Linked DNA regions of Homo sapiens. The protein of the gene in region 1 interacts with the protein of each later gene in a pairwise test. Each region holds a gene or a part of one and is shown in the gene's direction. Other genes may lie near its edges.

Evidence for each region.
Region 2: the proteins of TEX11 (region 1) and LRRC36 interact in binary tests that used the Homo sapiens proteins (3 or more experiments, as listed by UniProt).
Region 3: the proteins of TEX11 (region 1) and DUSP21 interact in binary tests that used the Homo sapiens proteins (3 or more experiments, as listed by UniProt).
Region 4: the proteins of TEX11 (region 1) and MAD1L1 interact in a two-hybrid assay, tested with the Homo sapiens proteins (2 studies listed by BioGRID and IntAct).
Region 5: the proteins of TEX11 (region 1) and FBF1 interact in binary tests that used the Homo sapiens proteins (3 or more experiments, as listed by UniProt).
Region 6: the proteins of TEX11 (region 1) and ING3 interact in a two-hybrid assay, tested with the Homo sapiens proteins (2 studies listed by BioGRID).
Region 7: the proteins of TEX11 (region 1) and RIBC2 interact in a two-hybrid assay, tested with the Homo sapiens proteins (one large-scale study listed by BioGRID and IntAct).

The regions. Positions count from the first base shown.
Region 1 is NC_000023.11:70,548,712-70,552,211, reverse strand, and holds part of TEX11 (testis-expressed protein 11), read left to right. Parts: coding exon 1-86; intron 87-3,500. UniProt on the Homo sapiens protein: Regulator of crossing-over during meiosis. Involved in initiation and/or maintenance of chromosome synapsis and formation of crossovers.
Region 2 is NC_000016.10:67,325,652-67,329,614, forward strand, and holds the start of LRRC36 (leucine-rich repeat-containing protein 36), read left to right. Parts: upstream 1-1,163; 5' UTR 1,164-1,211; coding exon 1,212-1,281; intron 1,282-3,963. Other genes in the region: BTB/POZ domain-containing protein KCTD19, read right to left, coding at 1,054-1,056.
Region 3 is NC_000023.11:44,842,600-44,845,388, forward strand, and holds DUSP21 (dual specificity protein phosphatase 21), read left to right. Parts: upstream 1-1,421; 5' UTR 1,422-1,533; coding exon 1,534-2,106; 3' UTR 2,107-2,289; downstream 2,290-2,789. UniProt on the Homo sapiens protein: Protein phosphatase component of the sperm flagellar doublet microtubules. May act as a regulator of sperm motility by mediating dephosphorylation of sperm doublet microtubule proteins.
Region 4 is NC_000007.14:2,226,446-2,229,945, reverse strand, and holds part of MAD1L1 (mitotic spindle assembly checkpoint protein MAD1), read left to right. Parts: intron 1-3,500. UniProt on the Homo sapiens protein: Component of the spindle-assembly checkpoint that prevents the onset of anaphase until all chromosomes are properly aligned at the metaphase plate.
Region 5 is NC_000017.11:75,913,543-75,917,042, reverse strand, and holds part of FBF1 (fas-binding factor 1), read left to right. Parts: intron 1-1,903; coding exon 1,904-2,026; intron 2,027-2,110; coding exon 2,111-2,296; intron 2,297-2,744; coding exon 2,745-2,921; intron 2,922-2,992; coding exon 2,993-3,130; intron 3,131-3,223; coding exon 3,224-3,341; intron 3,342-3,500. UniProt on the Homo sapiens protein: Keratin-binding protein required for epithelial cell polarization. Involved in apical junction complex (AJC) assembly via its interaction with PARD3. Required for ciliogenesis.
Region 6 is NC_000007.14:120,953,777-120,957,276, forward strand, and holds part of ING3 (inhibitor of growth protein 3), read left to right. Parts: intron 1-1,782; coding exon 1,783-1,848; intron 1,849-2,383; coding exon of another isoform or gene 2,384-2,395; exon of another isoform or gene 2,396-3,204; intron 3,205-3,500. UniProt on the Homo sapiens protein: Component of the NuA4 histone acetyltransferase (HAT) complex which is involved in transcriptional activation of select genes principally by acetylation of nucleosomal histones H4 and H2A.
Region 7 is NC_000022.11:45,420,193-45,423,692, forward strand, and holds part of RIBC2 (RIB43A-like with coiled-coils protein 2), read left to right. Parts: intron 1-2,097; coding exon 2,098-2,216; exon of another isoform or gene 2,217-2,781; intron 2,782-3,500. UniProt on the Homo sapiens protein: Microtubule inner protein (MIP) part of the dynein-decorated doublet microtubules (DMTs) in cilia axoneme, which is required for motile cilia beating.

The DNA.
Region 1 (3,500 bases):
CAGATGGGGCGTCGAATGTAGAGCTCTGTCCCCTGGAAGAAGTTTGGGGCTATTTTGAAGATGCTCTGAGCCACATTAGCCGCACTGTAAGTCAAATAGTGATATTAAACTTTCAGTTAATTTTAAAGAACTGAACTGTCTTGTGTACTATAAATTATATACAATAATGCTTTCTGATATGAGTTTTAGGATAAATTCATATTACAATTTTGTAGTTACACACTACAGAATTTTCCTGGGTTTCTGAAATATAAATAGTTGAAAGTAGACATTTTCTAACACAAGTGTATTATGGATTAGGTCCAAGTAGCAGTACCACCAGGCATTTTGAATTATTTTATATTTTCAAATCATGGTGGGATGATTACTTTCTCTGTGATGATATGAACCTTTTGAAAAAAGTTATTGCTATTCCCATCCTTTCTCAGAAGCATCCTTTCTCAGAAGAGTAGAAGGAACATTGAAGACCTGTATTCTAGTCCCTCCTCTGCTGATTTCTTTTTCTTTTCTGTGCAGGTTTATTCAGTTGTTTTAAAATTAGGTTTCTTGAGGTATAATTCACATATCATAAAATTCACCCATGGCTTGTGCACAATTCAGTAAATTTATAGAGTTGTGCAACTATCACTACAATCCAGTGTTTTTTAGTTTTAAAAATGTTTTATTTTTAATTTTTGTGGGTACATAGCGGTGTACATGTACCCATACTTATGGGGTACATGAGATTTTTTGGTACAGGCATATAATGCATAATAATCATATCAGGATAAATGGGGTATCCATCACCTCAAGCATTTATCCTTTGTGTTACAAGCAATTCAATTATACTTTTAGTTTTTTAAAATGTACAATTAAATTATTGTTGATTATAATCACCCTGTTGTGCTATTAAGTACAGATCTTATTCATTCTATTTTTTGTACCTATTAACCATTTCCACATTTCCCCCACCCCTCCTCTGGTAACCATCACTCTACTCTTTCTCTCCCCAGCAGTTCAATTATTTTAATTTTTAGCTTTCACAAATAAGTGAGAACATGTGAAGTTTGTTTTTTGTGTGTGTGCTGGGCTTATTTCACTCAACATACTGACCTCCAGTTCCATCCATGTTGTTGCAAGTGACTGGATCTTATTTTTTTTATGGCTGAATAGTACTCCATTGTGTATAGGTACCACATTTTCTTTATCCATTCATCTGTTGATGGACACTTAGGTTGCTTGCAAATCTTAGCTATTGTAAACAGTGCTGCAACAAACATAGGAGTGCAGATACCTCTTTGATATACTGATTTCCTTTCTTTTGGGTATATATCCAGTAGTGGGATTGCTGGATCATACGGTAACTCAATTTTTCGTATTTTGAGGAACCTCCGAACTGTTCTCCATAGTGGTTGTACTAATTTACTTTCCCACCAACAGTGTGCAAGGGTTCCCTTTTCTCCACATCCTCACCAGCACTTCCTATTATTGCCTGTCATTTGGATATAAGCCATTTTAACTGGGGTGAGATGATATCTCACTGTAGTTTTGATTTGCAGTTCTCTGATGATCAGTGATAGTAAGTACCTTTTCATATGCCTGTTTGCCATTTGTTTGTCTTCTTTTGAGAAATGTCTATTCAGATATTTTCCTTATTTTAAAACTCGATTATTAGATTTTTTTTCCTATAGAGTTGTTTGAGCTCTGTATATATTCTGGTTATTAATCCCTTATCAGAGGGGTAGTATGTAAATATTTTCTCTCATTCTGCAGGTTGTCTCTTCACTTTGTTGATTGTTTCCTTTGCTGTGCAGAAGCTTTTTAGCTTGATGTGATCCCATTTGTCCATTTTTGATTTGGTTGCCCATACTTGTAGGATATTGCTCAAGGAATCTTTGCCTACTCCAATATCCTGGAGAGCTTTCCCAATATTTTCTTGTAGTAGTTTCATAGTTTGAGGTGTTCGATTTAAGTCTTTAATCCATTTTGATTTGATCTTTGTATAAGGCAAGACATAGGGATCTCAACTTTCCTCCTTCTGCATATGGATATCCAGTTTTCCCAGCACCATTTATTGAAGAGACTCTTCTTTCCCCAAAGTATGTTCTTGGCACCTTTGTCAAAAATGAGTTCACTGTAGATGTATGGATTTATTTCTGGGTTTGCTATTCTGTTCCACTATGTTGAGCTGCCTGGGGCTGGAGGAGGGGTGATACAAGCACCCTTGTGGCCACTGCCACTGGGACTGTGCTGGTCAGACCTGAAGCCAGCACAGCACTGGGTCTCACCCAAGGCCCACTGTAACCACTACCTGGCTACCACCTATGTTTGCTCAATGCCTTAGGGCTCTACAGTCAGCAGGTGATGAAGCCAGCCAGGCTGTCCTTCCCTTCAGGGCAGCAACTTCCCCCTGGCCCCAGAGATGACATGCAGGAGCCAGGGCCTGGAGTCAGAAACCCTAGAAATCTACCTAGTGCTCTATTCTACTGCAGCTTAGCTGGTATCCAAACCACAAGACAAAGTCCTTCCCACTCTTTCCTCTTTCCACACGCAGAAGAGTCTCTCCCCGTGGCCACCACCATCAGGTGGTGTGGGGAGTTCTGCTGGGCTACTGCCAGTGTTCACTTAAGGCCCAAGGGCTCTGCAATCAGCTTGTGGTGAATGCTGCCAGGCCTGGGACTCATACTTCAGAGAAGTGGGCTCCTCTCTGGCCCAGGACAGGTACAGAAATGCCATCCAAGAGCCAAGGCCTGGAACCGGGGACCCTAGGAGCCCACTTGGTGCTCTAACCCACTGTGGCTGAGTTGATATCTAAGCTGCAATACAAAATCCTCTTTACTCTTCCCTCTGCTTTTCTCAAGCAGAAGGAGTCTCTCCTCATAGCCACCACAGCTGGGAATGTACTGGGTCACAACTGAAGCCAGCATGTCTCAGAGTCTCACCTAAGGCCCACAGTATGTACTACCTGGCTACTGCTGCTGATCACTGAGGGCCAAAGTGCTATTTAGTCAGCAGGTGATGAATCCTGCCGAGACTGGGTCCTTCCCTTCAAGGCAGTGGGTACCTTTTAGCCCGAGGTGTGTCTCAAAATGTTATCTGGGAACTAGGTCCTGGAATGGGACCTTCATGACTATGCCAAGTGCCCTGTCCTACTGTGGCTGAGCTGGTATCCAAGATGCAAGACAAAGTCCCCCTTAAGCTTCCCTCTCCTCTCCTCTAGTGGAAGGAAGGGGTCTGTTTTGGAGCTGCAAACTGCACTGCCTGGGGTTGAGGGAGGGGTCGTGCAATCACTCCCTTGGCTGCCCTGGCTGGTGTCTCACTAGGTCGCATGTCCCCCAGATGCACTGGCTCCAAGCCCAGCACAGCACAAAGATTTGCCCAGGAGTTGCAGTCCTTGTGGCCTAGACTGCCTCTCAAATTTATTTAGAACCCCAGAGCACTTTAGCTCTCAGTGGCAAGGCTTGTTGGAACTCAAGTTCCAACTACTGGGATGGACAATTGCTCTCTAGCTAGGGCTGGTC
Region 2 (3,963 bases), on another chromosome or scaffold:
GGGTTAGGGATGCGGCTGTTCTTTCCCAAAGACTACTCAGGGGCTGGTTAGTGCAGAGCTATCGCAGCCTGGCGACAGCCCTCAGTCACAGGCAAGCTTAGGGGAACCTGTGGTGCTTGAAAGACAAAAGGCTTCTTGCCGGACTGACTTCAGGAAACGGGGTAGCCCTAAAGCAGTCATCCCCACCCCATTACAAAGAGCTTCTCTCTTTCCCACGCTGATCCTTCTCCCCCGAAGAAGCTCCGTCCAAGTAAATTTCTTACCTTTTTTTTTTTTTTTTTTTTGAGACAAGGTCTGGCTCTGTCACTCAGGTCGCCCAGGCTGGAGTGCAGTGGTGCAATCTCGGTTCACTGCAACCTCCACCTCCCGGGTTCAAGCGATTCTCCTGCCTCAGCCTCCCGAGTAGCTGGGACTACAGGCCGTGCCACCACACCCGGCTAATTTTTGTATTTTTAGTAGAGATGGGGTTTCACCATGTTGGCCAGGCTGGTCTTGAACTCTTGACCTCAGGTGATCCGCCCACCTCGGGCTCCCAAAGTGCTGGGATTACAGGCGTGAGACACCGCGCCCAGCCCGTCCAAGTCAATTTCTAGAGCTAGAACTTCCTCATGCTCTAAAGACAGGACCCCAACTCCTCAGAGCCAGGATTCCCAACCTTTCAGATCTGGAGCTCCCCATCATGCCTTAGAGTTCTGTCCCCACGCTCCAATCCTTCAGATTTGGATCTCCCCTTCACACACACCCTCGCCTTGCCCCAAAGTCAGCATCCCCCAGCGCTGAGATATGAAGACCACCCCGTCAAAGGGGCACACGCCCAGCCCTCAGAACCGGAGTCCCCCACATCCTCAGAGCCAGAACACTTCATCCCTCAAGACAGAGCGTTATTCTAACTCCTCAGAGCCAGCCCCCCAAATCCTTCCCGGCTGGGGGCCCCTCGCTCTCTCCCATGCCCCAGAGCCAGGTCTCGAACCACTTAGCCCCAATCCTTGGCCACAGCGGCCCCCATTCGCCGCTTTGGTGCTTTTGGCGCCCCCGCCAGAGCGGGCTCCGTACCATGGTCGCGGCTCCAGCAGCGGGCGGGCGGGCTTGTGACCCGGCCAATAACGGTTCCCGGGGTCGCGGCGGCGCGCGCGCGGGGGGCGGGGCAGTGGGCGGGGCCTGGCGTGCGCCGGGTGGTCTCGCGGGCGGTGGCAGGTGAGCGGCGGGCGGGGATGGCGGAGCAATGGGAGCTGGACGAGGAAGGCATTCGCCGCCTGGGGGCGCTGACGCTGGAGCAGCCGGGTAGGGTCTGGCCGGGAGGGTGTGGACTGGGAACGTAGGGTCAGAAGCTGTGGAAAGAAAACTGAAGTGGAAGGCGGGGAACCTGAGATAGAGGCGAGGGAACCACAGAGAAGCGGTACCTGAGGCTGGGGGGCGGGGGGATAACTTGAGGCAGAAGGTTAGAGGGAGGTGGAGGTGGAGGAACTGAAGTAACGGGAGGGTGTGGGGCAGAGCCCGAGGAATTGAGAGAGAAGAGGGGAGTGTGAAGTAGGGAAGGAGAAACAAGGTTAACAGGGGACCCTGCCGCAGGTGACAGAACTGCGGGGGGCGGTGGCTGACCGCTGTAATCCCAGCACTTTGGGAGGCGGAGGCGGGTGGATCACCTGAGCGTGGCCAACATGGTGAAACCCCGTCTCTACTAAAATACAAAAATTAGCCCGGCGTGGTGGTTCAAGTCTATAATCCCAGCTACTCGGGAGGCTGAGGCAGGAGAATCGCTTGAACCCGGGAGGCGGAGGTTGCAGTTAGCCGAGATCGCACCACTGCACTGCAGCCTGGGCGACAGAGCGAGACTCCATCTCAAAAATAATAATAATAAATAAAATAAATAAATAATAAAATGTCTATTAGACATCCAAGTGTAAGGTACCTAGTAGGCAGTTGGATATATGGGTCTGGACCTCAGAGGAGAGGTCAGGGTTAGAGATGAAAATTTTGGAGACATTAGCAATAGGTGGTATTTAAAGCTACGGGAGTGGATGAACTCAGCTAAGGAGAGAATGTCGATGGAGAAGTGAAAGAAAGCTTAAGACTCAACCTTGGAATATTTCAGTGTTTAGAGGTTGTATAGAGGAAGAATGTGGTATCTTGGAATTTGAGAAGGGGTAGTGTATCGAGCAAGCAATGGCCAACTGTGCCAAATGCTATTGACAGGCTGAGCAACTTAAATGCAGAGTGTCTGTTAGATTTAGCAACATGGAACTTACTGGTGACCTTGACAGAGGGAGTTTTGGGAGGGTGGGGAGGAGGGAAACCAGATTGGAGTGGGATGAAAAAGGGAAATGATATTTGAGGGGAAGAGACAGTGAAAGTAAGAACTTTTGCTGAAAATTTTAGCTGTAAAAGAGACTGCAGAAATAGATGGTAGCTGAAGCGTATGATGTGCAGTCAAGAACAGAACAGGAAGGATATACTAGAGCATGTCGGTAGTCTAATGATTAATTTGGTAGAGGGGGGAAATATGTAATATTTACTCATTTTGACTGTTAAAATAATTCAATTAATTTATTCTGTGGGTAATATAATAATTGTACAGTGAGGGCCAGGCGCGGTGGCTCACGACTGTAATCCCAGCACTCTGGGAGGCCGAGGCGGGCGGATCACGAGTCAGGAGATCGAGACCATCCTGGCTAACACAGTGAAACCCCGTCTCTACTAAAAATACAAAAAAAATTAGCGGAGCATGGTGGCGGGCGCCTGTAGTCCCAGCTACTCGGGAGGCTGAGGCAGGAGAATGGCGTGAACCCAGGAGGCGGAGCTTGCAGTGAGCCGAGATCGCGCCACTGCACTCCAGCCTGGGTGACAGAGTGAGACTCCGTCTCGAAAAAATAAATAAATAAAATAAAAATTGTACAGTGAGAAGAAAGTCTTTACTCCCCCATCCCCGTCTCATAGGCCTAGTTCCCCTTCCTAAAGGCAATTACTGTTACCAGTATCTTGGATAGTTTTCCAGAAATATTCTCTACATATATAAGCATTTATCACTTATTTTATAATTTTATATTATGGCAATTTTCAAATATATACAAGAGTAGAGATAACAGAATAATGAACTCTATTAGCCTACCTCAACAGTTATCATCAATTCATGGCCAAGCTTCTTTCACGTATACCTCACCTATCCTCCACCCACCTCCAACCCCCTACACTGACTATTTTGAAGCAAATTCCAAGTATGTGATTTCCTCCATAAATATTTCAGTAGTATTTTATTTATTTATTGTTTTTATTATTTTTCAGATAGAGTTTTGCTCTGTCACCCAGGCTCTAGGGCAGTGGCGTGATCTCGGCTCACTGTAATCTCCACCTCCGCATTTCAAGCGATTCTTCTGCCTCAGCCTCCCAAGTAGCTGGGACTACAGGCACCCGCCACCACGCCCGGCTAATTTTGTATTTTCAGTAGTGACAGGGTTTTGCCATGTTGGCCAAGCTGGTCTTGAACTCCTGACCTCAAGTGATCCACCCACCTCAGCCTCCCTAAGAGTTGGGATTATAAGTGCAAGCCACAGCACCTGGCCAGTATGTATTTTTAAAAGCTAAGATTACTTTAAAAAAAAGTCACATATGCAACCTAAAAAATTTAACAGTAATTTCTTTTTTTGGTTTTGTTTTGTTTTTGAGATGGAGTCTGGCTCTGTTGCCCAGGCTGGAGTGCAGTGGCATGATCTCAGCTCACTGCAACCTCTGCCTCCAGGGTTCAAGCAATTCTCCTGCCTCAGCTTCCTGAGTAGCTGGGATTTCAGGCATGTGCCACCATGCCTGGCTAATTTTTTTGTATTTTTAGTAGAGACGGGGTTTCACCATGCTAGCCAGGCTAGTCTTGAACTCCTGACCTCAAGTGACTCAGCCTCCTAAAGTGAACAGTGATTTCTTGATATCATGAAATATCTAACTAGTGTTCTTATTTCCCCAGTTGTCCTATAA
Region 3 (2,789 bases), about 26 Mb from region 1:
TTTGTGGGGACTGACAATTTAAGTAATGCAAAATAATTTGATTATGACAACTGAGAAAAGAAACGTGTGTTGTGTTTTGAGGTTATCATTTCCTTGACCATCATAAGCAGCCTGGTATCTATTTCATCTTTGTTCGTAATCACAGCACACCTTTGAACACATACCAAAATGATGATGGAATGAGAGCAAAGTATGTGAGTCAATTGGCTACTCTGTGAAACAATTTGTTAGTTTTAGGCTATAGTTCTTTTCAATTTTCAGCCAAATTCTATAAAAATCTTAGCTGGAAGGAAATGCAAATGTCAGGTTACATTTTAGAAATTAATTTTTGGGCTGAGTGCTGTGGCTCGTGCATGTAATCCCAGCACTTTGGGAGGCCGAGGCCGGTGGATCACCTGAGGTCAGGAGTTTGAGACCAGCCTGGCCAACATGGTGAAATCCTGTCTCTACTAAAAATACAAGAATTCGCCAGGTGTGGTGGTGCGTTCCTGTAATCCCAGCTACTCGGTAGGCTAAGGCACAAGAATCACTTGAACCCAGGAAGCAGAGGCCTGGGACTCTCCAGCCTGGGTGACAGAGCAAAACTGTCTCAATTTTTGGCCCAATTACCATGTAGCATTAACTTGTTTCAGAATGTTTAATATTACTGGGAAGACAGCATCGGTAGTGGTCAAAGTGATTTGTAGTTCACAAAGCATGTAGGCATTTTTTTTTGAAGAAAGTAAACAAAATAATTTGAACTGTTGTTTCAGGTAATAAAATAGACTCATGCGGTAAGTCATTTGAGCTGTATGTACAAATGGACTATGACACAGCTAAATTAGTCACAACTGTCCACCACAGGCCAACTTCAAGATAAAGGGCTATATATCAGTTAGCAATGCTCTCTTACAACCAGCCCTGATGTGTTTGTAAGCAGGAAAATAATTTTATGGTTACAATCAACAAAGAAGTATCAGGCCAGTCCACCAAGCCCAGCCAAATCCCATATCTCGCTCCAGTTTTATAGAGATTAGCATATCACATGAGCCAAATGCTGTTCCCCAACTTAGAATGTGATATTGCTATTTTGCAGGGAAAGTGTAAGCCCTGTTCTGCAACACTGATGAAATAGAAGTATTCATAGATCTTGTTTAACGTGGTCCAATAATTGAAACATAAAATAGATATCTTGTAACAGAACATTTTTAAAAGTCAAGAAAGATAAGAATTAGGCCTTGGAAAATAAATGACTATGAAGAAAGATAAAAAGAAAAGAGACTGGGGTGTCTCTGAAGACCCTGCTTAGAGGCCCTGTCCTCCTTGCGGCAAGCGGCCATTGCCATGGAAACCGGAGCCGCAGGGCTATCTGTCCGGGATTGTGACGCCCAGATGGGAGTGGTGAGAGGAGACAGAAAGAGGGTGGTGGCCGATAGCTGGTCCTCTTTCTCCAACACCTAGCCTGAGACTTGGCGGCGCGGCTGCTATCCTGAACTAGCTTGGTAAGTGTTGTGTCCCGAACCAGCGTAGAGAGACCTCGGACCAGCCGCCTTGATGACAGCATCCGCGTCCTCCTTTTCATCATCTCAGGGTGTCCAGCAGCCCTCCATCTACAGCTTCTCCCAAATAACCAGAAGCTTGTTTCTCAGCAATGGTGTGGCCGCCAACGACAAACTCCTTCTGTCCAGCAATCGCATCACCGCCATTGTCAATGCCTCGGTGGAAGTGGTCAACGTATTCTTCGAGGGCATTCAGTACATAAAGGTGCCTGTTACCGATGCTCGTGACTCGCGTCTCTACGACTTTTTTGACCCCATTGCTGATCTTATCCACACCATCGATATGAGGCAGGGCCGTACGCTGCTGCACTGCATGGCTGGAGTGAGCCGTTCCGCCTCACTGTGCCTTGCGTACCTCATGAAATACCACTCCATGTCGCTGCTGGACGCCCATACATGGACCAAGTCGCGCCGCCCCATCATCCGGCCCAACAACGGCTTTTGGGAACAGCTCATCAATTACGAATTCAAGCTGTTTAATAACAACACCGTGCGCATGATCAACTCGCCGGTAGGTAACATCCCTGACATCTATGAGAAGGACCTACGTATGATGATATCAATGTAAGCCATCCCGGCCAGCCCCTGACATCTGCCATCGATCTTGCACCAAGACTGAACTTGAACACTGACATTTTGTTAGTAAAGAAAACCGGATGGTGCCTTGTTAAAGGGCAAGAAAAAAGGGAGGGGGTTGGAGTTTTGAACGTAGTAAGCCTTACCTTAATAGAATTAAATTCATGAAACATAAGATAGTGAAAATATTTTTTATATTGTGAGGTCAAGCTATTGGGGCCTGGCTGGAACCAGGGTGGGGCAAGTAATGCTCAGCTCACATAGACCTGCCAGCAGCACCCAATACATGTGGCAGACCTGGAATCCTGAGCCCTGCCAGAGGCTGACTAACCCAGGAGTGAATCCCCTAGAATCTCACCCGGTTCTTTCCAACCCAAAGTCAAAGCCTTAGACATCTTGGCATCCCTTGCACTTCTCCCAGTAAGTGCCAACCTAGTGGATAAGTGGCTTTCATTCAAGCTGTGCTCCAGGAGCTCTGGAGGAGTCTCAGGCTACCCTTGCCCACCTTCAATCACAGTGGCCCATCTCTGGTTTTCTAGATCGGATTTATACATTAGTTAAAAAAAAAAAAACTAGTTTTTTAAAAGACCATTCCACTCCATAAAGTTTAAAAATATTGTATTTTTTTGACTGCTGTACTTGATGGCAAGTTCTCAAGGTGTCTTTGGTGATCTC
Region 4 (3,500 bases), on another chromosome or scaffold:
AGACCCTGGGCCCGGGCAGGACCTCTTCCAGTCTTCTGTAGTTGAGGTGGGTCGGTATTAGCAGAGCCTAGAGACAGCTATTCGTCTCCCAGGTCTCACTATGGGCACTCCTCATTTTGGGGTCGTAGCTGGAGGCTAGTTGGGGCCCTGAGCCATCCTGGCTTAAAGGCCTGCCTTGTTAGCGCCCTGAGTGGGCCTGGCGCTCAGCATTGCGTTCACACAAGTGCACTCACAGACCCTGGTGACAGGATCGGAAAGCCAGTTCATTCATCTAATTGAGGACAGAACCCAAACTGCCTGGGGGAGTGAGCACCAGGACTGTCGGGAAGGCTGTGTTGGAAACACAGTGCTGAGAGTGCCTGGGCAGCCCAGAGACAAAGCCACAGCAGTGAGCAGAAGGACTGGGTGTTTTGTGGTCTCAGACTGTGGAGGGCCATTTACAGATTTTGGGGTGATTTTTACAGTTTTCTTCTATAAAATAGTTGTATTTTGTTTCATTACAAGTTCTTGGGGTTTCTCACTGTAGACACAACTGCAGAGGATTCAGGCCTCCTGAAGGACTTCAGGCTCCAAAGAGTGATGAGCCCAGTCCCAGTTGGGGCTGCGATAATGGGGCCCCCAAGTTGTAGGGAGTGGTGGGGAGTGGAGTGCTGGCTAGTAGTGTCTCCAGCCTTGCCTGGGCCCTGTGGCTGCGCAGGCTCCTCTAGGCTCCTCTGCCTGGACCCTCTTTCCCAGTCCCTGCTGCGGTCCCCAGAGCCGTTCTGTAGTTCTGTCCGCATTAGAGGAGGCTCTGGCTTCCTGCGCTCTCAGAGCCCAGATGAGGCCCTGCTGCATTTGGTTAAACTGTGTGTGCGTGTGCATTTGTTTTGTTGCATAATTGAATTAATGTGTGTTTATTAGAATGCTAGCTTGTGGCCAGATGTGGTGGCTCAGGCCTGTAATCCCAGCACTTTGGGAGGCTGAGGTGGGCGGATCATGAGGTCAGGAGATCAAGATCATCCTGGCTAACACGGTGAAACCCTGTCTCTACTAAAAATACAAAAAATTAGCTGGGCGTGGCACCTGTAGTCCCAGCTACTCGGGAGGCTGGAGCAGGAGAATGGTGTGAACCCGGGAGTCAGAGCTTGCAGTGAGCTGAGATTGCGCCACCGCACTCCAGCCTGGGTGACAGAGTGAGACCCTGTCTCAAAAAAAAAAAAAGAATGCTAGTTGCTAGCTTGCTCACTGCCCTTTCTTGATGAGGACTGTTTTTTATTCTGAGATTAGGTCATATATATATATATGTGTGTGTGTATATATATAATATTTATGTAAATGTTCTTTTGTGAAATTATGAAGGTAATAGATGGTAGTTGTTTTTTATCACTGACAAAATGAGAAGTGGCCAACTCTGAGCTGGTTGCAGTGGCTCATGCCTATAACCCCAGCACTTTGGGAGGCTGAGGTGGCTGGATCACTTGAGGTCAGGAATTTGAGACCAGCCTGACCAACATGGTAAGACCTCATCTCTACTAAAAATACAAAAATTAGGCGGGTGTGGGCACCTGTAATCCCACCTACTCGGGAGGCTGAGGCAGGAGAATCGCTTGAACCTGGGAGGCGGAGGTTGCAGTGAGCCATCGCGCCACTGCACTCCAGCCCGGGTGACAGAGTTGGCAACTCTGGTCTGAAATGCTGTGATTTTAGTGTTGCGAATGTCTGGGACCTCTTGGCCTGTCTGTCAAAGCTGTGGGATTCTAGAGTCTGTCTTGGGGCTCGGAGGCCCCCAGTGCTCACTGGTAAAGGCCTCTCGGTGAGGGGATCAGTGATGGAGTGCGGTAGTCAGAGCAAGGTGGTGAGCGGAGTGATGGCGGCAAGACCAGCCTTGGTCCCTGGCCCCTGTCACATCCCATTCCTGGACTTCGTCGTGGTTCTCTCTCTCCTGCTGAGCCCCCGGCGTGGCAGGGAGGGCCTGGAGAACATGGCAGGCCGGGGGAATGTGTGCTGTCTGGTTTCTCACACATCGTGTTGATTTAACGTAAGGGTAAACTTTCAGGGTTCCTTTCTTTCCGTTGTAGTCAGCTCCAGGCAGAGGTGGCACACGGATCAGGTGTGTCTGGGACTCCTGGTCCCTGCCGGTCGTGCCCCCTGCAGGCGGGGTGCCCACCCTTCTCGAGAGGCTCAGGCTTGACTGCAGACACAGAAGTGAGACCAGGAAGGCTGCTGAGTTTGAAGGGCAGTCTTAGGAACGCCCAAACAGCAGCAGCTGAGAATCGAGACACAGTAACATAGGAGTAAAGGAAGTGTGGGCTTGGGCCACCAGAGAACACAGGTGGGAGGACAGAGAAACTTCCCTCCCCTGTCCCAGGCTTTCCTGGCCTTGGCACGCTTGGCATTTGGGCTGGGTAATTCTTTTTTCTCAGGACTTTCTTGTGCATTGTGGGCTGTTTAACAACTTCCCTGGCCTCTACCCCCTGGACGCCAGCCAGCAGCAGACACATGTGACCACCCCCCTGTGACAATCAGGTGTCTCCAGACAGGGCCAGATGTTCCCAGGGGCAAAACTGGACCCCACTGGGAACCACCACTCTACTCTGGTGCTTCTCAACCTTTCATGTGCATGTGAACGCCCTGAGAATGTGTCTAAAAAGAAGTTTCTTTTTTTCTTTTGGAGATAGGGTCTTACTCTGTCATCCAGGCTGGAGTGCAGTGGTACAATGTTGGCTCACTGCAGCCTCCGTCTCCTGGGTTCAAGTGATTCTCCCTCCTCAGCCTCCCGAGTAGCTGAGATTACAGGTGCGTTACCACCACACTCGGCTAATTTTCATAGTTTTGAGTAGAGACAGGGTTTCACCATGTTGGCCAGGCTGGTCTCAAACTCCTGACCTCAAGTTATGTACCCACCTTGGCCCCCCGAACTGCTGGGATTACAGACGTGAGCCACCACGCCTGGCCTAGATTCTTTTGTTTTTTTTTTTTTGAGACGAACTCTTGCCCTGTCATCCAGGCTGGAATGCAGTGGTGTGATCTTGGCTCACTGCAACCTTCGCCTCCTGGGTTCAAGCGATTCTCCTGCCTCAGCCTGAGTAGCTGGGGTTACAGGTGCGTACCACCACGACCAGCTAATTTTTGTATTTTTAGTAGAGACGGGGTTTCCCCATGTTGGCCAGGCTGGTCTTGAACTCCTGGCCTCAAGTGATCCACCCGCCTTGGCCTCTCAAAGTACTGGGATTACAGGTGTGAGCCACCACACCCAACCTAAAGAGAAGATTCTGACTGAGTAGGTCTGGGGTGTAGTCTGCGACTCTGCATTTGTTAAGTGCCGGGAGATGCTGCACTGCAAGGCTCTGGGCCACGTGAAGAGTCAGTGACTCTGCCTTTTCCTCCAGCTGAGCAGGTCGTACCCAAAGGCCGGCTCTGGAACTATTTGGCAAGTCTTCTGGGGCTCTTTGAGGCTCAGCTAACCTGTAATCACTAGCCCTGTGTGGTAGGCAGACTTCTGAGAGGGCCCCCAGGAGCTC
Region 5 (3,500 bases), on another chromosome or scaffold:
AAACTAAAAATAAAGAAATAAGAAACTAGCCAGGCGTGGTGGCGCACGCCTGTAATCCCAGCTACTAGAGAGGCTGAGGTGGGAGAATCGCTTGAATCTAGGACACAGAGGCTGCAGTGAGTGGAGATCATAACATGGCACACCAGTCTGGTTAACAGAGCGAGACTCTGTCTCAAAAAAATAAATAATAAAAACATTTAAATTTTGTTTTAATTAACTGGGTGTGGTGGTGCACACCTGCAGTCCCTGCCTTTGCTCACATCCTTTTCCTTACCTGTGGAAATCTTTCTAGGCTGAATTCAATGGTAATGAATCTTTCGATGCTACCACCTCCACAAAGCCTTCCTTGTCCTCCCACCTATCTTTTTGTCCTCAGCTAGTAGTTATCATCTTCTAAGGTTTTACAAAGCACTGTTATTTTTTAGAGACAGGGTCTTGCTCTGTTGCCCAGGCTGGAGTGCAGTGGTGTGATCATAGCTCACTGCAGCCTGACCTCCTTGGCTTAAGCCATCCTCCTGCCTCAGCTTCCTGAGTAGCTGGGACTACAGGCGCAAACCACCACACCCAGCTAATTGTGTATTTTTTACTGAGATGTGGGTCTTGCCATGTTGCCCAGGCTGGTCTTGAACTCCTGGGCTCAAGCAATCTGCCCACTTAGGCCTCCCAACATTTTGAGAGTACAGGTGGGAGCCACCATGCCTGGCCAAAAAAAAAAATTTTTTTTAGAGATGGGGTCTCACTGTCACTCAGGCTGGAGTGCAGTGGCAAGATCTCAGCCCACTGCAGCTTGAACCTCCTGGGCTCAAGCAATCTTCCCACCTCAGCTGCCAAGTAGCTGGGATCACAGGTGCATGCCACTATACCCAGCTAATTTTTTGTATTTTTTGTAGAAACGGGGGTTTGCCATGTTGCCCAGGCTGATCTCAAACTCCTGAGCTCAGACAAGCTGCCCACTTTGGCCTCCCAAAGTGCAGGGATTACAGGCGTGAGCCACCATGCCCAGCCAAAAACTTTTTTTTTTTTTTTTTTTTTTTTGAGTCAGAGTCTCGCTCTGTCACCCAGGCTGTAGTGTAGTGGCGCAATCTCAGCTCACTGCAAACTTCGCCTCCTGGGTTCAAGGGATTCTCCTGCCTCAGCCTCCTGAGCTACTGGGATTACAGGCAACTGCCACCACGCCCAGCTAATTTTTGTATTTTTAGTAGAGATGGGTTTCACCACGTTGGCCAGGCTGGTCTTGAACTCCTGACCTCAGGTGATCCACCCGTCTCAGCCTCCCAAAGTGCTGGGATTATAGGGCTGAGCCACTGTGCCCGGCCCAAAAAAATGTTTTTAAAGAAGAAAATAAAAATATCCCACTAGTCAGAGATGTCCACTGCTGACCTGATATCTATCCTGTAGCCATGTCAACGTAGATAGAGATGCTTTTATGTTGTGAAGCATTTTGATTCGCCTCTTCATTTGGTAACTGTGTTAAGCATCTGCCTGGGGTCAGGCACAGTGAAGCTCTCGCCTTGTGCTGTGTGTGGCTGGGCCCACAGCACAGCATTAAGCCACCCTGTGCTTAGCCTGCTTGGCTGATGGGTGAGGACAGGCAGAGTGCGTAGCTGGCGATTCAGCGGCAGGGATGTTGCTGCTCTTTGGCCCTCCCAAGCTGCTAGCCTTGGTGCTGTTGGAGACCTGAGGGTTGGGAGGGCACCTGCTGGGTCCTTCTCTTGGGCAGAATCGTGCGGGCTGGGCCCTGGCAGTGCCTCCCAGGCACCCCTCATTTTGTGCCTCTTTGGGAAGGACGTGTCAGTGGCATAGTGTGGGAGACACTGGTGGGTTCATGCAGCTTCTCAGGGAGTGGCCAGGCGTGATCCTCAGGGCGGGAACCACGCTCTCAGTCCTGCCCTGGGCCCTACAGGAACGCTGGCGGGTGACTGCCGAGCAGTCCAAGGCGGAGTCCATGCAGCGCGCCCTAGAGGAGCAAAGGAAGGTCACGGCCCAGCAGATGGCCATGGAAAGGGCGGAGCTGGAACGGGCCAAGGTGAGTCAAGCCACCGCACTCAGCCCCTGCCCCTGCCATTATGCCCAGGGACACTCACCCCGTGCCTTCACCCCCACATCCCAGAGCGCCTTGCTGGAGGAGCAGAAGTCTGTCATGCTCAAGTGCGGGGAGGAGCGGCGGCGCCTGGCTGCCGAGTGGGCGGAGTTCTCCGCGCAGCAAAAGCTGAGTAAGGAGCGGGCCGAGCGCGAGGCCGAGCGGGCATTGCAGGTGGACACCCAGCGGGAGGGCACCCTCATCAGCCTGGCCAAGGTAGGGCCCAGAGCCTCCGGACAGTGGAGGGCCCAGGGTTGCCTGCGCCCCTCCATCTGGACACATCCGCTTCCAGTCTTAGGAAAGGAGAGTGTAGCACTAATGTCACAAGAGCATAGGGATTAAAACAGTAATCGCATCATCATGCTAACATCTTCCTCGTATTGTCCCAGGTGCATTATACACATTTTATTTGATCCTCATGTTCCCATGACTTTGGTCATTTAGAAATGAGGAAACCGAACTTCAGAGTTGAGCCTGCCACAGTCACGTGGCTTGTGAGGGCAGCACTCCGGCTTGGCCCCAGGCTTCTCTGGCTCTCCCTGGAAGCCCCTGGCTCCACCACCTCCTCCCAGGGGCAGGGTGGGCAGAGGGGACCCTAGAGTCCTGCACAGAGTGCAGCGCAATTCCTGGGAGGAGAATGCAGCAGGGCCTCCGCTGTCTCCAGGAGCAGGCTGAGCTGAAGATCAGGGCCAGCGAGCTCCGGGCCGAGGAGAAGCAGCTGGCAGCGGAGAGAGCAGCCCTGGAGCAGGAGCGGCAGGAGCTGCGGCTGGAGAAGGAGAGGATCAACGCCACCGCCCTGCGTGTCAAGCTCCGCGCCGAGGAGGTGGAGAGCATGAGCAAGGTGCTGCTCGGGCACATGGGCGTGGGCGCATCTGAGCCCAGGCAGCCCTGACCCAGGCGGCCTCCCTGCAGGTGGCCTCCGAGAAGTACGAGGAGGGGGAGCGGGCATTGCGCGAGGCCCAGCAGGTGCAGGCAGAGCAGCAGGCCCGGTTGCAGGCGGTGCAGCAACAGCAGGAGCGGCTGCGGAAGCAGGAGCAGCACATGCACCAGGCAAGGCTCCCTGAGTGTATGGCGCCCCTGCCCCCGGCACCCCCAGCCTCCCACCTCACAGCTGAGTCCTTCTTTCTGGGGGAACGGGGACAGGAGCATCTGAGTCTGGCCCAGCAGAGGCTGCAACTGGACCGCGCACGACAGGACCTGCCCTCTAGCCTCGTGGGTCTGTTCCCCAGGGCCCAGGGCCCTGCAGCCTCCAGCCAGAGTGGTGAGTGGCTCCAGAAGGAAGGGCCGGCGGCTCAGGACTGGGCAGGGGCAGTGCTAGGAGTGGGCAGGCCCTCCTCCAGCCGCTCCAGTTAAGGCGGCCAGCTGGGTTTTATAGTCGCCTTATTTCTTTTTTACACAAATAATGTGTGTTAATTTTAGA
Region 6 (3,500 bases), on another chromosome or scaffold:
AAATTAGTGGACCCACAGAAGAACGAAATCTTAAAAGTTAGAAGGAATTTAAGAAAGCCTTCTAGTTTAAACTCTAAATTTGCACACGAATTGGTCTGGAAACATAGAATTCTTTGAGGTTTTGTTAGTTTTATAGTGGCTATAGCTGTCTTCCAGAATTGAATGAGTATACACGTACATCTCAAAGTTTGCTTTGAAAGTATGATTGAGTTCATTTAGGGATGGATACATTGGAAAAACAACTTAAAAGACTTGAGTTTGGTCATGATTCTGCTATTTAGCTGTGTGACATTAAATCTTAATATTTCTGAATAATAATGCCTTCCTAAACCCAATGTTCATAGAATTGTTCAAGGATCAACTAAGAGGCCTGGCGTGGTGGCTCACACCCATAATCCTAGCACTTTGAGAGGCTGAGGCGGGTGGATCACCTGAGGTCAGGAGTTCGAGACCAGCCTGGCCAACCTGGTGAAACCTCGTCTCTACTAAAAATACAAAAATTAGCTGGGCGTGGTGGTGGGCGCCTGTGATCCCAGCTACTCGAGAGACTGAGACAGGAGAATCACTTGAACCCAGGAGGTGGAGGTTGCAGTGAGCCTAGATCGCGCCACTGCACTACAGCCTGGGCAACAGAGTGACAGAGTGAGACTCCGTCTCAAAAAAAAAAAAGGGTCCACTAAGGAAGAAATTTGGAAACTACAAATTGAGTAGTTCTGTTATGATATGTTATTTATTCTACCACATGGAGGGAAGATTGTTTCTCTTAGGAAAAAAAAAAATCATAATCTATAACAGAAGTGGTCCTAGCTTGGAAGATACCTGGAGGGACATGTGTTTGTGAGTAAAGACATGTTATATCCACATCCCAGAGTCACTAATCATTTCTTTAACCTGTGGAGTGCACCTTAAGTATACCCTGAAAAGTCTAGTACTCCATGGAAATTCATAGTATCATCTTCTTTCCCCCTCTTTTTTAAAAAAAAATTTAATAAGTTGAGGCAAAATCTAAAATACAGATTGAGTTGTATGAATATATACCTAATTTAAAGTGGGAGTTATAGAACAACTGGAAAATGGGGAAATGCAGATCAGAATCCTTTCAATAGCTGAACTTTAACAAAAATTTTTTAATGGAATGCAAATGTACTTTACAAGTTAGATCAATTTTAGTTAACTTTTTATTTTAAATACTGTTCATTAACTCATATAGCTTTTTCTAGACTTACAATGGCATTTACTTTTAATTATATCCTTTCTAGAAATTCTGAACATCTCCCTTTTACTCTTGGCCATTGTGCATAGTTTCTAATCCTATACCATCCCCACCCTATTTCTAACAGGTTTTTGTTTTGTTTTGTTTTTTGTTTTTTTGAGACAGAGTCTCGCTCTGTTGTCCAAGCTGGAGTGCAGTGGCCCAATCTCGGCTCACTGCAACCTCTGGCTCCCGGTTCAAGCACTTCTTGTGCCTCAACCTCCTGAGTAGCTGGGATTACAGGCGCCCACTACCATGCCCGGCTAATTTTTGTATTTTTAGTAGAGATGAGGTTTTGTCATGTTGGCCAGGCTGGTCCCAAACTCCTGACCTCAAGTCATCCGTCCTCCTTGGCCTCCAAAAGGGATTACAGGCGTGAGCCACTGCCCCTGGCCTCTAACAGGTTTTTTATTACTAAGGTAGGATGACTGTGATAACAAGATATGATAATGAAAATGCAGTTGTATGTCCTGCATATGAATATTTTAAAATGATTAATTTATTTTTGAAATGAAAATGTTTTCATTCAGGACTACTATAAAGCTTTGGAAGATGCAGATGAGAAGGTTCAGTTGGCAAACCAGATATATGACTTGGTAAGTAAAAGTAATGTGCATACTGTGCCATAAGTACTTGAATAACAGATTATATCTTAAATTGTATTGGCTTAAATGTAGTAGGAAGAAGCAACTAAAACTGAAGTATTGCTCTCTTGATCACATCTAATTTGACATTTCAGTGTCCATTTTATGGTTTCTTTGTGGAAAAGTCAGAGTGGTTAGTTAATGTGGTGAGAACTGTACATTTTAGCAAGTCTATACGGCGGTAAGGTGGTTTCTGATGTTAGATATTTTTTAAACAAGAATTAATGTTTAACTTTATTTTACTAATCCTTGTCTTCTTAAGGTAGTGTGTTTACTTGCCTTATACATCATTTTGAGATTGTTTCTGTGGTAAAATACACCTAAGAAGACTGCTTTGACAAGAGTTCTTGGTAGTCTGATTAAAATGAAGAAGAATCATTTGAATCAGTGTTTATGTGAGTGATGTTAAAAGATCGTATGTAACAGCTGTGTCAGTTGTTTAAGCAATACAAGATGACAAACTTTAAACAAGATTCTTTTTTTGCAGCAGCACTTCTAAAAGATTGAAAACACCAAGAAGATAGATAGAATATTCACTATTTCTCATATTGATGCAATTGTGGTGCTCTTTTTCATTTGAAACATCTTCTCCTAAAATATACACTTTAAGAAATAGTCATTTCTGTTTTTGCATTAAAGTAAATTAAAGCAGAAAACACATGCTCACTTTTGGCTAACTTCAGTGTATAGATTTCATACTTATGTTGTCTTTCCTGGGTACAGATTTATTACTGAACAAGTACGTGTAAGTAAAATGTCATTGGTGAGCAGGACACAAGATAAAAGGTGAACACCACATATGGTGTGAATTGTAAATGCTTATACCACAAACTTGAAAATGTGTCATGTAGAGCCATGGAAAATGTCTAGTTGTTTTTATGTAGTACACACATTTTAATGGTGCTAACAACCTGGGCTCTTTTGTTCATAGAGTTATTCTGAAAAAAATTTCATAAAAGACACTGCCTAAAGATAGGTAGAATAGGCTGTAGCTTGATTTACTGTGGAATAAAAACCAAAAAAAAAAAGGTCTTAATTGTTTCAGTCTTTAATTATGTCTATAAACTTAGAAAAAGGCATTTACATTTGAATCTAGACTAATTTGTTTAGTAACATTCTTCCTCATATTCAATGACTGTATGTATCAGTCCTTATTTAGAGACTGCCTGCTTTTTAATTCATATAGCTCTTTGGTTCTATTCTTTGTTTTGTTTATTATTTTGTTGTTTTATTGCTTGTTAGACCTTTACTAAAGATATTTTGTGTATTTAGAAAAAATATAACATAAATATATGCTTTTTAAATATGTGTGTGTGTGTATTCATCTCTTATTTAAAAACCACACTGTTCATCCACTCTGTGCCTGAAAAAAGGGAGCTGTACCTGGGTCTAATGGAGGAATAAAAAGTAAATACTAGGCCGGGCGCAGTGGCTCACGCCTGTAATCCCAGCACTTTGGGAGGCCGAGGAGAGTAGATCACGAGATCAGGAGATCGCGACCATCCTGGCTAACATGGTGAAACCCCATCTCTACTAAAAATACAAAAATATTAGCCGGGCCTGGTGGCGGGTGCCTGTAGTTCCAGCTACTCGGGAGGCCGAGA
Region 7 (3,500 bases), on another chromosome or scaffold:
ATCTTGCTGTTTTCAGACGTGAGTATATCAGGCTCACTTCTGCCTCAGGGCCTTTGCATGTGCTGTTCCCTCTGCTTAGAAATGTCTTTCCCCAGATATCTGTAGGGATCACCACTCTCCTCCAGGGCTGTGCTAAAGTGCTATCTTATCAGTGAGGCTTCCCCTGACCCCCCTATTTTAAACCCTGTACCCTCCTCCCACCCCACATTCCGTATCCTGTTGCTTAATTTTTCTCCATAGCCTTGATCACTGACGTGTTGTATGGTTCATCCATCTCCCAAGTGGTCTAAATTTCCACCTCTGGCCAAAAGGCTTTGTTTCAGCTGTGGACTTGGTTCTTCAGCAGTCTCCTTGACATCTCACAGGACCCTTCACAACATGTCGGAAAGCAGCCCTGGATCCTCTTCTGCATCTGCTCCTTTTTCCATCTTTCTCCTCCAACTAACTGGTACCTCCTGCCCTTAAACCAGAAGTCTAGGGAATCATCCATGACCCACCCCTGACTCCAGGCCATCTCTGACTCTTGTCCCTTCTACCTCCTGCATATATTTTGAACTGTCCGCTTGTCCCCATCCCTGCTGTCACCCTTGTGATGCAAGCCACCATCTCAGCTGAACAGACCTCTGCCAAGATCTTTCTGATGGCCTCCACTTCCTTTCTTGCCCCTCTCTGGTCCATTCCCAAAACAGCAGTCAGTGATACTTTTAAACAATGTGGAGTTTGGCCAGGTGCAGTGGTTCACACCTGTAATCCCAGCACTTTGGGAGGCCGAGGTGGGTGGATCCCCTGAGGTCAGGAGTTTGAGACCAGCCTGGCCAACCTCTGCCTCCCAGGTTCAAGTGATTCAACACTGTTCTTACTTTGGGAGGCCAAAGTGGGCAAATCACGAGGTTAGGAGTTCAAGACCAGCCTGGCCAACATGGTGAAACCCTGTCTCTACTGAAAATACAAAATTAGCTGGGCGTGGTGGTGCGCGCCTGTAATCTCAGCTACCCCGGAGGCTGAGGCAGGAGAATTGCTGGAACCCAGGAGGCAGAGGTTGCAGTGAGCCAAGATGCACCACTGCACTCCAGCCTGGGCAACAGAGCGAGACTCCATGTCAAATAATAATAATACTATTATTATTATTAATACTATTATTAATAATAATAATTAAATAATTAATTATTATTTAAATGCCACCTATAGGCCATCATTTCCCAGGTTTATACCTCCAGCCTGGACTCTTCCCTGAATCCAGACTCATAAATTCATCTAACTTCTCTTGGATGTCTAATGCACTTGGATGTCTAATTAATTATTATTATTAATAATAGTATTATTAATAATAATAATAGTATTATTAATAATATTAATAATAATAATAGTATTATTAATAATAGTATTATTAATAATAATAATAGTATTATTAATAATAATAATGTTATTATTCTGCAAAGGAGGTATGTCCTGCTTCACAGGTAAGGACACAGGCTCAGCAAGGCTAAGTAATAGTTGAGGTTAACAGAGCTCGGAAATGTCTGGGCTGGGATGTGAGCCTCCTCTGACTCCAAATCTTCACATTTTGCTTTTGGACCTTCTACCTTGACCCCTTCACCTCCTACTCTTCCTCTTTCTCTTACTCATTGGCCTGACCAAGTCCTCCTGCCACTCCACAGTATCTGTCATCTGGCCCCACTTCCTCCATAGAGTCCTGTCTGGTTTCTTGCTCTTTCACTTCTGGATTCCCCTGAATCCTTTCCCAAAACCTCTGCACCTGCTCCCAACCCACTTCTTTTGTCCTGCAGGTCTCAAACGTCATTTCTTGGGGCTGTAGAGTATCTCTTGCCCACTGTAAGGATGTAGCTGCCTCAGGATAGAGCAGGACAGCAAGGGGCACACCACCAGCCTGTCCCAGGACCCCAGCATAGTAGTGATCACTAGCACTCATCTGGGAGCTTGACTCTCCCACAGCCTTCAGAGGCAGGTCCTGTCATTATTGTTCCCGTCCTCATGCTCATGGCTAAGGACGTGGTAGGAGGCAAAGGCACGAACGGCCACACGTGGGAAGGTGCTCCTGTGGCCAGGTCGATCTGATTGCTTCTTGCCTCCTTTCAGAGGCCCTCTACACAGAGACAAGGCTGCAGTTTGACGAGACAGCCAAGCACCTCCAGAAGCTGGAAAGCACCACCAGAAAGGCAGTTTGTGCATCTGTGAAAGACTTCAACAAGAGCCAGGTATAGGTACTCCGCGACCTCGGGCTCGACGACTGGAGGGGAGGATGAGCCCACTACGGCTTCCCAAGGCTCTCCGGCTTCCCTGGGATCCCAGTCTCAGCCTGCTCCCTGGTCACATGACCGGCCCTGACAGAGACCCTGATGGGCTGCCTGATGACAGAGATGGATGAGACCCAGTCCTGTGCCTTAGCTCTGAATCTTGGAGGGAAACCTGCCAAACTAGCCATGTAACCTGGGGAAGTCAGCTCACCTTTCTACACCTCGGTTTCTTCTTCTGTAACATGAGGATGGTGACATCCACCTAGACTGTTACCGCCTAGCTCTGCTCCACTGCCTGGTGCTGGTTTCCATTCTTCCCACCTCTCAGACTTCCCCTTTACTGAGAACAGCTACTTGGATGCTCACCGATGGCAGGGATGATGAAGAAGATCATAATGAGCTCGAACACTGGGGCCTCCTGAGACCTCCCACCTCCTCTCTAAACTCTGGCCCCCCTCCTCCCACACACTCCCCTCCCCTCCAACCTGATGCTGAAATTGCTGAAATAGGTTCTTCTTTTTGTTTCTTTGGTTTTTTTGTTTGTTTGTTTTTGAGACAGGGTCTCACTCCATCACCCAGGCTGAAGTGTAGTGGCACGATCATGGCTCACCGCAGCCTCGACCTCCCAGGCTCAGATGATCCCCCCACCTGAGCCATCCAAGTAGCTGGGACTACAGTCACGCGCCACCATGCCCAGCTAATTTTTGTATTTTTTTGTAGACACAGGGTTTTGCCATGTTGCCCAGGCTGGTCTCAAACTCCTGAGCTCAAGCAGTCCTCCCGCCTCAGCCTCCCAAAGTGCTGGGATTACCACATCTGGCCCTCTTTTCGTTTTGGAAATTAGAGCTCGCCCCCCTGCCTCTCCCTCCCCCCACAAGGTTTTCTTTTCGAATGCAATTCTGTTTTCTGGTGGGTGGGGACTTTGCCTGGGTTCATTGATCAGGTTCGCTCGTCAACTAGAACTATGGTCCCCAAAGAAGGCTGTGCAGGATCTGTGGGAGAGCAGATACCAGAGCCCTGCTTTATATTCATTTTTAACCTCATCACTTTTGATTTCCATGTACATGTGTAGTTATAAGCATGTGCTATCATTAAGGTATAGTAGTACCATGCTGTGAACTAAATATATTGGAGATACAAGCTCAAAACTGTCCTGGTGGAGGCAGGCAGTCAAAAATCCCAGAGAGGCTGGACCAGACACCAGAGAATGTGGGTTTTCAACACGGGGGAGAGGAATGAGGAGAG